Linked DNA regions of Homo sapiens. The protein of the gene in region 2 interacts with the protein of the main gene of each other region in a pairwise test. Each region holds a gene or a part of one and is shown on either strand. Other genes may lie near its edges.

Region 1 (7,168 bases), on a different chromosome or scaffold from region 2:
AACCCCATCTCTACTAAAAATACAAAGTTAGCTGGGTGTGGTGGCGCATGCCTATAATCTCAGCTATTCGGGAGGCTGAGGCCAGAGAATCACTTGAATCCGGGAGGCGGAAGTTGCAGTGATCCGAGATCATGCCTTTGCACTCCAGCCTGGGCAACAAGAGCGAAACTCCACCTCAAAAAAAAAACACCCAAAAAACAAAAAACTACTGACCATCCAGGTAGCTAGCAACGAGGACTGATAAGAGGTGATTGGTAAGTCAGCTTGGGGAAGAGTGACATGACCTTTTTGTTCTGTTTGGAGCCTAATTTTTTTGACCAGGAAATTAGGATTTTGAGAATATTCAAAATTAAAACCATGGCTATAATGTTATGGCATATTTTACCAAAGGCTGGTTATGGCATATTTTACCAAAGGTTTTTTTTTTTCTTTTTTTTTTGAGACAAAGAGTCTCGCTGTGTCGCCCAGGCTGGAGTGCAATGGCATGATCTCAGCTCACTGCAACCTCTGCCTTCCAGTTCAAACGATTCTCCTGCCTCAGCCTCCCGAGTAGCTGGGACTATAGACCTGCACTACCACACCCAGGTAATTTTTGTATTTTTAGTAGAGACGGGGTTTCACCATGTTGGTCAGGCTGGTCTCGAATGCCTGACCTCAAGTGATTTACCTGCCTCAGTCTCCCAAAGTGCTGGGATTACAGGCCTGAGCCATCACGCGCCGCCAGAAAATTAAGGTTTCTAATGACAGTGTTTCACAAACTAACTGATTATCAGAATTATCTGAGAGTATCATTGAAAAATATATATTTCCTTTTTTTTTTTTTTTTTTTTTGAGACAGAGTTTCACTCTTCTTGCCCAGGCTGGAATGCAATGGTGTGGTCTTGGCTCACTGCACTGCAACCTCCGCCTCCTGGGTTCAAGCGATTCTCTTGCCTCAGCCTCCCAAGTAGCTGGGATTACAGGTGCCTGCCACCACGCCTGGCTAATTTTTGTATTTTTAGTCGATACAGGGTTTTGCCATGTTGGCCAGGCTGGTTAGGAACTCTTGACCTCAGGTGATCTGCCCGCCTTGACCTCCCAAAGTGTTGGGATTACAGGCATGAGCCACCATGCCCGGCTGGAAAATAAAGGTTTTTAATGACAGTGTTTCACAAACTAACTGATTATCAGAATTATCTGGGAATATCATTGAAAAAATATATTTTTGGAGCTCATCCCAGACTTGCTAAACATATTTTACCTTGTTCTTTTAAAAATTATTTCTTAGTATTCTTTTTTTTTTTTTTTTTTTGAGACAGAGTCTCGCTCTGTCACCGAGGCTGGAGTGCAGTGGTATGATCTCAAAACTGCACTGGGCCAGGTTTTGTGTTTTGTGTTTTTAACTTTAAAATATGTTTAGTGCGCCAGGCCGCAGTCGCTCATGCCTGTAATCCTAGCACTTTGGCAGGCCGAGGCAGAAGGATCACTTGACGCCAGGAGGTTGAAAGTAGTCTAGGCAATATAATGAGAGCCCTGCGCCCCCCCTCCCCGCCCATCTCTATTAAAATAATAAGAAATAGGCCAGGGGCAGTGGCTCACACCTGTAATCCAAGCAATTTGGGAGGCTGAGGCAGGCGGATCACTTGAGGTCAGGAGTTCAAGATCAGCTTGGCCAACATGGTGAAACCCCATCTCTACTAAAAATACAAAAAATTAGCCGGGCGTGGTGGCATGCACCTGTAATCCCAGCTACTTGGGAGGCTAAGGCAGGAGAATGGCTTGAACCCAGAGGGCAGAGGTTGCAGTGAGCCGAGATCGCACCATTGCAGTCCAGCCTGGGCAACAAGAGCGAAACTCCGTTTCAAAAAACAAACAAACAAACAAACAAAAACACAAAACCAAAAACCTCTGTCTCTCTTCCCTCCCCTCCCCTCCCCTCTTGCTCTGTCTCTTCCCCAGGTGATTCTGATGATGAGCCAGGTTTGGAAAACACCAATCGACCAAGTCACCTACCTGAAACTTACTCCCACCATCAGCATCCCTGGCTTAAATGTCCACCTATGCTTAAATATCTCTGATCACAAGGAACTGACTACCTCCTGAAAAATTTCCATTTTGCACTGGGCAGCTCTCACTTCTGTGGGATTGACACCTCCCTCCATGAGGTTTCCATCTGTCTAGCTCCGTGCTATCCTTACTCTGCCAAGACACATCACATTCCTGTTCCACATGACAGCCCATCAGATATTTGAAGCAGCAAGAATATTCCCCCAAGGAGAATATCCCCATCCTCTTTAACTGTTCTTCCTGAGAGTGTGTTCGGACTCCTCATCCAATTGCTCTAAAAGTAACTGAAACCTGATCCCACTTAATGATTACATTTGATGTGCTGCAAATTGCCCCTGCCTTGTGACATCCTTCTTCACCTCTCCGTTTTACTTTGGTTTTCTCTAAAGTCATAGACAAGGACACTCTGTCTCATCACACAAGGTAAAATGCACTCAAATGTCCAATCTGCATGCAAAAACCCAGGGCTTTAAGGCGATGAAGAAGGATCCCATACCTCTCTTGGACCTCTCTGAAATCACATATGGGTAGATGATCCAGCAGACAACAGACACAATCAAACCACTTTTTTCCTGTCTGACTTTTCAACTAAAGACAGCCATTCCACTTCCGGTGTCTTGGTCTTATCACTGTAACTTGAGCTGAGACTTTACTTCCATGTCTCCCCCCACCCTCAGGAGTCCTCAGGGTTTCCACTAAAGCCCCCTTTCATTGAGCCTACAAGCCTTGCTGGGAGGCACAGGCAGCGTCCACCCCGATGATGTCCTCCCGCCGGCATCCCGCAGCCTTCGCCTTCCTGGTTCACCTGTCGCTTACCTGTCTCGCTCTCTCACCTCTGCTGGTCAGCAGGTAATGTTTTCGCTTTCTTCTGGGTTTGCTTTTCAGCCCCCCAGTGCCCCCTTCTTCCTCCTGCCTCGCTGCTTGGTGGGAAGTGTAGTTCTGGCCCCAGGTGTCGGGTTTGGCGTCCTGAGAAAGTGAAAGGAAAGTGCAATCCCTCCCACCTGCCCTGAGTCCGGAGCTGCCTCAGGGTACAAAGCGCCAGGTGAGGGCGGCCAGCACAGGGCAGGGCGCAGAGCCGGCTTTCTCACCAGCCTTCGCCGGCCTAGCGGAAAGCCCTCACAGGAAGGAACAGCCAGTGAATTAAACCAGTGCTGGCCCATACGACACTGCCCCTGCTCCTTTCTTCTACTTTACCTTGTCTTGTGGGCTTTTGCGTCCTTTGCTCTCAATTTGTCCTGGTGTCCCTTGTTAGGAAACAATTTCAGAATGTATCTCATGTAGTAACAGCGACTGTTTTGCAAAATGTTTGGGTCAGTTGTACATGTGCATATTGTACTGGGTGATGTAAAAAAAAAATTTTTTTTTTTTTTTTGGAGACAAGGTCTCACTCTGTCACCCAGGCTGAAGTGCAGTGGCACCATTCATGGCTCACTGCAGCCTCAACCTCCCGGGCTCAAGCAATCCACCTGCCTCAGCCTCCTGAATATCTGGGACTACAGCTGGCCTGAGGGTTGTTAGTTGAGATAACACCAACTAAAGGAGGATATAGATCTTAAGTAATTTATTTTATTATATATACATATTTTTTAGAGACAGGGTCTTGCTCTATGGCTCAGGCTGGAGTGCAGAGGCATAATTATGGCTCACTGCAGCCACAACATCCCAGGCTCAAGGAAGCCTCCCACTTCAGCCTCCCAAGTAGCTGGGACTACAGTCATACACCACCATGCCCCACTATTTATTGTTTTTAGAGCTGGGATCTCCCTATGTTGCCCATGGTGGTTTGACACTCCTGGGTTTGGCCAGGCATGGTGGCTCATGCCTGTGATCCCAGCACTTTGGGAGGCTGAGGTGGGCAGATCACCTGAGGTCAGGAGTTCGAGACCAGCCTGGCCAACATGGCAAAACCCCATCTCTACTAAAAATACAAAAATTACCCGGGTCTGGTGGTGAGCCTATAATCCCAGCTACTCTGGCAGGAGAATCGCTTGAGCCTGCGAGGTGGAGGTTGCAGTGAGCCAAGGTCGCGCCACTGCACTCCAGCCTGGGTGACAGAGTGAGACTCCGTCTCAAAAAAAAAAAGAAAAAAAGAGAAGAAACTCCTGGGCTCAAGTGATCCTCCTGCCTTGGCTTCCCGAAGTGCTGGGATTACAAGGCATGAAACCACCGTACCTGGCCAGATTGTAAGTAATTTAAGTCTTTGTTTTGTAGATCTGAATATCTCTTTGTGAGGAGTCAGAGAAAGGAGATGATGCAAAGAGAAGGAAGCAAAAACAAAACTAAAAGAACTTTGAAGGTATATGAGAAGAAAAAGCTGAAAAGAAAATGTCTGCCTCACTCCCTCAAAAATTCTACCATAGAGCAAAGGTTGACGTCCAGAAAACCTCAAGTTTATCAGTCCCAGATGCTGGCAGTAGAAGCATAAAGCTGAGGTGAATTTTCCTTACTATTTTTTCCCCAGAGTCTAGAACAGTAACTGCCTCCCAATGTCTATCACAGGGACCAGATTTTCTCCACTACATAGGATGTGATATGTAGGCAGTTAAATGGCATTATAGACACAATAAGCAAAATTGAAACAGAGACACCCTGTTGGATAAAATATTTACATCGGTGTCCTGTTTCCAAACTGTGGGCTGAGACCTATAAATGAGTCATGAAATCAACCTTTGTGGGTTGCAACCAGCATTTTCACAAGAAGGGATTAAGAAACAACTTCAGAATGTATCTTGTGTAGTAACAGTGACTACTGTTTTGCAAAATGTTTGGGTCAGTTGTACACATGCATATTTTACAGGGTGATGTAAAAAAAAAATGTTTTTTTTGAGACAGGGTCTCACTTTGTCTCCCAGGCTGAAGTGCAGTGGCACCGTCATGGCTCACTGCGGCCTCAACCTCCTGGGCTCAAGCAATCTTCCTGCCTTAGCCTCCTGTATATCTGGGACTACAGGTGTGCACCATCATGCCCAGCTATTTATTTCATTTTTTTGTAGAGCCAGGGCCTCACTTTGTTACCCAGACTGGTCTCGAACTCCTGGGATCAAGCAATCCTCCCACATCAGCCTCCCAAGGTGCTGGGATAACAGGCGTGGGCCACCGTGCCTGGCCTGAAATGTCTTTTTAACTGTAGGCTGGGGTCCGCAACGTTTGAGAAGCACTGAAATACAGGGCAATTTATTCACTGTCCAAGAACATTACTTCTATGATGTCTTCAGATAAATTTGAAAATATTTGTCTTACCCAAAATTCCAGTTACATATCCATTTTCAGGATACTCTCTTCTGAGTGAGATAAACTCAACACTGGCAGGTATAGCAAGAAAACAAAAGACTCTGCCAAATATTGCTGCAGGGTGAGAACCACCAGCACAATGTGGAAATCCAGTGTAGGTAAAGATTCGCCCCAAATGTGTGATCAGGAAATAAAACCTGTTAGGTGTCAGTGTCATGAAGTTCAGTGTCCAAATGTTGTCTTTCTTCTGGTAATGGTTACTTTTTTTTTTTTTTTCCTGAGATAAGGTTTAGCTTTTGTCACTCAGGCTCGAGTGCAATGGTGCGATCTTGGCTCACTGCAACCTCCACCTCCCGGGTTCAAGCGATTCTCCTGCCTCAGCCTCCCGAGTAGTTGGGATTACAGGCACCCGCCACCACGTCCAGCTAATTTTTGTATTTTTAGTAGAGATGGGGTTTCACTATGTTGGCCAGGCTGGTCTGGAACTCCTGACCTCAGGTGATCCACTTGCCTCGGCCTTCCAAAGTGCTGGGATTATAGGGGTGAGCCACCGCACCTGGGGTGGTTACTGTTTAAAAAAAAAGTCACCTGACTCAGACCCACTGAGCACTTGGAGAACATCTACAGGTAGAAAACAAATGTTACAAATATTTAAATATCCTGATGGTTTTGGAAGTCAAGGGGAGAGAGATCTTACCTCTGTCTACCACCCAACCCTCTCCACCAAGGTCACTATAAATACAAAGAGCATAGCTTGGGCTACAGGAAAGAAGGCATTCATATGTATAAATGTGTGTGTATATATACACTGTTTTTTCTTTTTTAAGAGACTGGGTCTCCCTCTGTCACCCAGGCTGGAGCACAGTGGTACGATCATAGCTCACTGCAGCCTCCAAAGGTGCGGCTGAAGTGATCCTCCTACCTCAACCTCCCTAGTAGCTGGGATTAAAGATACACACCACCACATGGCTAAGAAGGCATTCTAGCCCTGAGTGGTGGTGACACAGGTTATATACTTGAAGTATACACACACACATATATATGTATACACCCATATGTAAATATAACACAAAAAACTATGTATTTCACTCTATGTATATATATTTACCATTTTAACCGTTTTTAAGTGTACAATTCAATGGCATTAAATACATTGTTGTGCAACCAACATCACCATCCATCTCCAGGACTTTTTTGGCATCCCAAACGGAAACTCCATAGCCATTAAACAACAATTTCTCATTTCCCCTTCCCTCCAGCCATGGGCAACCACCATGCTACTTTCTGACTCTATGAATTTCACTACTCTGGCTACCTCATATAAGTGGAACTGTACTGTACTGGTCCTTTTATGTCTGACTTATTTCACTTAGCATAATGTTTTTGAAGGTTCGTCTATGTTGTAGTATGTGTCAGAATTTGCTACCTTTTTTAGGCTGAAAAATAAACGATTCACAATATATTTTTAAAAATAAAAGTAACATATTTGGCTCATTTATTTTTGCTCACCCTGACATCATATTTCTCCTTGGATGCCTAGAGACAAAACTACCACTGTATAAGGGCTAGAAACAAAACTACCACTGTATAAGGGCAAATAAAAATGAAAAATAACAGGCTTAATTCCTCTGCTGAAAATAAAGAGACTTCTCAGCCTTCTCTCTGTTCCTTCAAAATTTCTTTCTCTGTCCTTTTCGAATGTACACAAATCTTTATAACGGCGAAATGAGCCTCTTGCCAGTATCACAACTCAGAAATGTATCCTCAAGGACTTGGGGGTCATCTTTTTGAAATTCAGACGTGAGTTAGTGCCTGTATCTTCCAGTTCCTACATGAGGGTAAGAGACTAAATTAGTGGGTATGGGCGCCTTGCTCCAATTTGTAAAACTAC
Region 2 (7,022 bases):
TTATTAAAATACGAACCCAAAGCTATTCTGCTGGAGATTCTGTTTTGGTAGGTCTGGGATGAAGCCCAGGAACCTTTTGTTTCAACCAGAAGCCCCAGGTGATTCTGATGCAGGATGGCTTTAGATCCCACTTTGAGGAACATTACTGCTTCTTTACCCGCTTCAGTTTCTATGTCTTATGAAAGCAATTAACAGAGATTAACCAGGGTTACACACAGAATTGCTGGTGAGTTCTCATCACCGAGAGCAACCTCGACAGGACAGCTGTTAGGACCAAATGAGAAGTACAAGACAAATTCCTTTGAAAAGTGTAAATCACCCTACAAATAGAAGCTGACAGTACTGTTATAATCACCACTATCATCTAACACATTCTCTTCAATTCTTCAAAGGTAAAAAGATCATAATAAAACATTTTTCCCTGCATTTTGGAAATGAGAAAACTGAGGCTCAGAGAAATTATCTTGCTTACAGTCACACAGTTACCAAGTGATGATGCTAGGATTCAAATTCCCTAATGGTTAAAAACATGGTTTTAGGAGTTAGGCCGAGGAAAAAGTTTGGCACTTCCACTTACTAACAGTGTGATCTGCGACCAACATTCCAATCTCTCTAGAATCAATTTCTTCATTTGTGAAATGGAACAGTAATAGTACCCACAACTCATTCATTGAGATAATATATGAAGCCCTCAGTATAGTACCTGGCACATAGCAGGTACTCAATATATGTTAGCAGCTACTGTTCTTATCCAGGAGGATGCGTGGATGGGGATAAAGCACAGGGAAAAGGAAAGTTGGAGATAGAAGACCATATGGAAAAGAAACACCAGAAAGCTCTGGTGGTTCTTTTTTTTTTTTTTTTTTTTTTGACAGAGTCTCGCTCTGCCACCCAGGCTGGAGTGCAGTGGCATGATCTCGGCTCACTGCAACCTCCGCCTCCCAGCTTCAAGTGATTCTCCTCCCTCAGCCTCCTGAGTAGCTGGGATTACAAGCTTGTGCCACCATGTCTGGCTAATTTTGTATTTTTAGTAGAGATGGGGGTTTCCCTATGTTGGCCAGGCTGGTCTTGAACTCCTGGCCTCAGGCGATCCGCCTGCCTCGGCCTTCCAAAGTGCTGGGATTACAGGTGTGAACCACCGCGTGCAGCCTAGTAGTTCTTAACTACCTCAAATTATAGTTGTGCTATTACATATCCCTTCTCTCCTACAAATGTCTAGAAAAAAAGTAAGCCTCTAGAAGGCTAGGAAGTGTGGCACACTCCCTCATTATAAAACCACCATGTGGCCGGGCGCAGTGGCTCATGCCTGTAATCCCAGCACTTTGGGAGGCTGAGGCAGGCGGATTACCTGAGGTCTGGAGTTCAAGACCAGCCTGGCCAACATGGTGAAACCCTGTCTCTACTAAAAATACAAAAATCAGCTGGGCATGGTGGCAGGGGCCTGTAATCCCAGCTACTCAGGAGGCGGAGGTTGCAGTGAGCTGAGATTGTGCCACTGCACTCCAGCCTGGGTGACAAGAGCAAAACACTGTCTCAAAAAAAAAAAAAAAAGACATCATGCAAAATGCTTTGTTTACTGATGTCTGCTTCACCTCTATCCTTATTTACCTTCCCATGTACTGTAAAGTGCAAGTTCCTTTCTGAAACTTTTGCACCTAGCATGGGGTTCAGCCAAAATGGGAAGTCAATAAATGTTTTTCTTAATTAATGAAAGAATGGTTGGTAGAAAATCAACTAAAAATTACTAAACCGATAAAATAATTGGTCCTTAAGGCTGGGTTTCTCAACCCTGGCACTAAGGACTTTTCAGATTGGATAATTCTTTGTTGTTGAGGGACTATCTTGTGTGTTGTAGACTGTTTAGCTGCAACCCTGGCCTCTACCAATTAGATGCCAGTAGTACCCTCTCCTATAGTGGTGACAATAAAATGTCCCCAGACATTGATGAATGTTCCTGGGAGTGAAGGAAGAACAAAATTACCTTGGTTAAGAGCCACTGCCTTAAGGAGAAGGAAGCAATAAAAAGACCTTTTCTTGTTGTTGCCCAAAAGTATGCAAAAATTCTAGTTCTTCTAAGAAGTTATTTTTTGGGTTTTACTTAATGCAGTTACTCAGGTCCTTTAAATATTATAGAAGATATAATCTGTAGGAGGTTCTCCAGCCCCTTGAGAAAGGCTTAATTACCATATTCCAGAACTTGTCGAATGCAACAAGGAAGCCTGTACAGACGCCCCGAAGTCCCTTGAAAGTGCGGATGTGAACATTCACCTTCACCCCCTCACGGATACAGCGATGGAGTTCACCCAGAGGGCTGCCTTCGTGCACTGAAACAAGAGAAGAACAGTCAGGACAGTTTTAATATCTGCCCTCATTCCCAGAATTAAGCCACGACCACCCAACTTCGGCCAGCAACATGTGGCCCATGGTAGAGTGACAATCTCACTATTGGAACAGGAAGGTCCAATGGGCAACATGGCTCGTACGGCCAACACACACTGACACAAGACTAGATTCCAACAGAATGTGGATCATCCATATGTATGAATATCAGCCAAATGTTTCACTACCGGTATATCTCTTATTCCACGATGTCACTGATTTTAACATGCACTATCACTTAACTTTTGGGGTTGGCCGGGCGTGGTGGCTCACGTCTGTAATCCCAGCACTTTGGGATGCTGAGGTGGGCGGATCACCTGAGGTCAGGAGTTTGAGATCAGCCTGGCCAACATGGTGAAACCCCATCTCCACTAAAAATACAAAAATTAGCCAGGCATGGTGGCCCATGCCTGTAATCTCAGCTACTCAGGAGGCTGAGGCAGGAGAATGGCTTGAACCCAGGAGGTGGAAGTTGCAGTGAGCCGAGATCGCACCATTGCACTCCAGCCTGGGCAACAGAGCAAGACTCCATCTTGAGAAACACACACACACACGGGCACGCAAACATTAAATGTATACATTAACAGCGAGATCCTTCTCAATTCTGTGCCTTAAGACAATTCATGAATCACATATCCAGCTTGAGTCTTCCAAAAAAACAAAAACCTTGTTTACATGTTCAAAGGAAACAAACTGCACTCTGCCCTTAAACATGTACAATCCTGTCAGAAAGAAAGGCCTTTGACCCCACCAAAGCTACTCCATGCACAAGCTTTCTGGACTCACTGGTGTTTCTGGGAGGAAAAGCACTGGTTCTGGCCCAAGCCCTGACAGTGTAAAAGGCACCTGGCTGAGTATCTGGCTCCTATGACACTACTAATAAGCATCATGTGAAGAGAGCAGGATAATGACTCATAGGAAGAATATTGAGACTATAAATTTCAGCTTTTATTATGAAGGATTCTCAGAGCGTGGGAGGAAAGATGAATTTTATTTTTATTATTTCATGTTAACTCAGCTCTCACAATATGCTGGCTATGGTATATAAAACCTCCCAAAAGAAAGCCGTACACATTCTTTTTTCCTGAGACAGGGTCTCACTGTCACCCAGGCTGGAGTGCAGTGGCACAATCACAGCTCACTCCAGCCTTGACCTCCCTGGCTCAAGCGATCCCCCTAGCTCAACCCACTGAGTAGCTGGGACTACAGGCACGCACTACGCACCCCCAATCTCTCTCTCTTTCTCGTGCGTACACAGTCTCACTCTTTCCCAAGTTTGCAACGCAAAATTCTGTAGAAAGTTTATTTTTGGTCAGGTCTTAGAAGTCTGGATATATAGAGTATTTGGCATTGACAGTAGACAAATGAAAAATCTCTCCTGCTTTGTTTCTAGTGACATAAAGGAGAACAACAGTCCTGCACTTCAGTTTGGATAACTAAATTGGTTCCTCCTGAAGCCACCTTATCCCTCTGTCATGGATTGGCTTATAAATGATGGCTGTGATAAATTAATAAAAGATTCTTAGAAGAAAATGACTTAGCAGACTAGCAGGAGTTTATGTCAGATTAACGGTGTGAGAATAACTCGGAGTTGGAAGCGACACGAAGCAGTGACTTTGGAAAAGACCATGAGAATTCTGGTCTGACCATCATCATTTACCTCTCTTCTAGCAGTATTTTAAAGTCCTTTGTACATTTGCTAGCTAAGGGTGTGTATGGGTGTGTGGGTGTGTGTGTGTGTGTGTGCGCGCGTGCGCGCGCGTGTATATGTGTTATAGGCCATATTAAATCAAGCATTCAAGCATTGTAAACAATTTTCAGGTCATTATAACTAGTTGTGTGAACCTGATGAATAACTTTTTCTTTAAGTTCCAAATTTCCTCATTCATAAAATGAGGTTAAGATAGTTAACTTGTAGATTTATTTCAGGACTAAGTCCCAATAACTCAATTTCTTAGAAACTGATCACATGCTTGCATTATTTCTTTTCCTACACATACATATATACTGCCCCCTGCCCTATGATGTATGTTTATACAAAGAGTGGAAAGACTATTTTTTTCTAACTTGGAAAAAAACAGGGACATTACTTCTTTCCCACACCTCCAAAAATAGAAAGGGCAAGCAGGTATCTTAGCAACAGTCTCTTACTCTAATTAAATAGATGGCAAATTCAGGTCTTTCAATTGGTCTTTCTCAAACGTGTACCTTTAATTTTTTTCTTCCAAAGATTTAATAAGGTGTAATTCCAGGAAGCATTGCTCTCCTTGTATCCTTGTGTGATCAAAAGTACGACACTAGCACCACCTATCAGAGCAAACCGCCAAGGCAAAAATGAGCTCCCCATTCTGAATCAGAGTGCACATTCTCTTTCCAGCCGTCTCTGTGGCAAGCTCCAAATGGATATGAGTCAGGTTTCTATGACCAAATATGACAAAAAAGCATATGCCTTATCTTTGGAGAAAGTTACTCTTCCAATCCCCTTCTCTATTGCCACATCCTTCCAGATCCAGGTCATTTTCAGCTCCACTCTTCCTTCTCCTGCTACATGTAAATTATACCATCACAGCCTGATTTTAAAATAACTGTTCTCAATCATGCCCTTCTTTAAAGACCTAAAACTTGCCTCTTACAGTAACTCTTGTTTTCCTTAGAAAGAAATATTTAATAGGAATGTAGGAACAGAAGCCACGTCTGCGTCTCAGGTGGCGGCAAAACAAGATGGTGGATCCCCGTGCCATGACCCCCAGATGCAGGGCTTATATGCTACAGGGAAAGGGTGATTCAGAAGGGATGTGTAGGACAATTGAAGTAAGATAACGTCAAGGTTGTTCTCATGTAAGGACAGGAATTACAGTAAGTACATGCTCTTACACAAGAAACAACAGATAAATTGGAAATCTTAGAGGCCTTCCCAGAACTGGGTTTAATCAGAAGTCAACATGGTGGACTGGCATTCAAGATGGAGTTGCTTTAGCCTCCACAACTACCTATTCAAAGATTTAAGGACAAAACTGTATCTACATATATATCTCCAAATATACAAAGTTATTAGCTCATTAGGGCAAAGGCAGCTCCCCAGATTCCATAACCTATTAAGGGCCCAGAGAAATGAAACCACAAACTGTAACAGTCACCTTATGAGTCTGCAATGGAAAAATATTTTCTCTTTTCTCTGAAAATAGTTTTAGTTGCCATTCTATAGAAGGGTGCCATGACAGATTGAAAGTACAATGTTTGAATCAGTGACCCGGCAAAGGCACATCAGTGTCTTCCCTATTGTGATGCTATGTCAAACTGGCCTAAACACACACACACACACACACACACACACACACACAGCAGTGTGGTGCAGAAATCATCTGAGACTATTCCTTAGTTGCACTGGAGACAGCTGACTGGAAACAGCTGCAATGAGCTGAGAAAAGTGACAAGGCTGAATTTTAAGCTTGGCCTTTTCTGAAGCCTAAGTACCGCTGTTCTCGGTTTTATGTAAGTCATACTCATGCCCTTTTGGCAACCTCTGTGTAACAGAGATGCTGTTCAAATTTGAGAGTTCATTTTACTGCTGTACACAGGGCTCAGATGTTCTTGATTTTGCCTATTTTCTTGCTCTTTATTTGCAGGAAGTGAAGTCAAAGTTATCCAAAGAATATCACTTTATTAAAATGAAAACATCAAGACACCATATTGTGGGAAATTATTTCAGCAATCAAAGTAAACTACAACAACAGGACTCAAACAAATTTTCAATCATGGTATCACGTCAGAGGCCCAATAAATCAGGTTTGTTTTGAAATCCTTCTCAGCAGGATGTGTGCGAGTAAAAGGACTGTGTAGGCTCCCTGCAGGAAAACTGAATTTGGAACTGGAGACAAGCCATTCACCTAGACAATGGTCTAGGAGCCAAACCCTGCATGTCATATGCATTTTGGATTGACCACACACACTTGTTCACACCGGCACAGGCTGCACACCAACACACCTGTAGCTAAAACAAAGTAATGATAACACTTTTTCTTACAGCTTTATAATGTCAAGACGTGAGCTTGAACACACCAGTTCATTTCACAGTGACAGATATACCTAGAAAAAGCTTGCTTGAAGCACAATTATAAACCAGAACCACCGTGGGCTAGGTATGGTGCTGCGATACTAAGGAGAAATATAGACACTAGAATTATGTGGAAAAGAGGATAATGCTCTTTAGTCTTGTCTTACCATCTCTATAGGCATGTCAATATTAAAAAGGAGGAAAAGCAATTGCATTCCACTTGCAAGTACAGCTTGTGTGTGAGTTCTTTGTTGGTATCAGTGATGGCTTAGGCTTAATGATGACGAAAAACCTTTCCTCCTATGCTTTTTTTCTTCTTTAGTATTCCCAGTATTGCAACAGCCTCCTATACTTTTATTATTACTTTTTTTTGAGACCTCGTATCACCTCTGTAGAGGTCTCTATGATGTCCCTATGATCTCGGCTCACTGCAGCTTCCACTTACAGGGTTCAAGCGATTCTCGTGCCTCATCCTCCTGAACAGCTGGAACTAGAGGCAGATGCTGCCATGCCCAACTAATTTTTGTATTTTTAGTAGAGACAGGGTTTCACCACGTTGGCCAGGCTGGTCTTGAACTCCTGGCCTCAA

What was found. The genes of interacting proteins can lie anywhere in the genome.
Region 1: the proteins of LSM11 (region 2) and RAB19 interact in binary tests that used the Homo sapiens proteins (3 or more experiments, as listed by UniProt).

The regions. Positions count from the first base shown.
Region 1 is NC_000007.14:140,399,912-140,407,079, reverse strand, and holds the start of RAB19 (ras-related protein Rab-19), read right to left. Parts: upstream 3,023-7,168; 5' UTR 2,863-3,022; exon of another isoform or gene 2,612-2,862; intron 1-2,611. UniProt on the Homo sapiens protein: The small GTPases Rab are key regulators of intracellular membrane trafficking, from the formation of transport vesicles to their fusion with membranes.
Region 2 is NC_000005.10:157,746,692-157,753,713, reverse strand, and holds part of LSM11 (U7 snRNA-associated Sm-like protein LSm11), read right to left. Parts: intron 2,325-7,022; coding exon 2,185-2,324; intron 1-2,184. UniProt on the Homo sapiens protein: Component of the U7 snRNP complex that is involved in the histone 3'-end pre-mRNA processing. Increases U7 snRNA levels but not histone 3'-end pre-mRNA processing activity, when overexpressed. Required for cell cycle progression from G1 to S phases.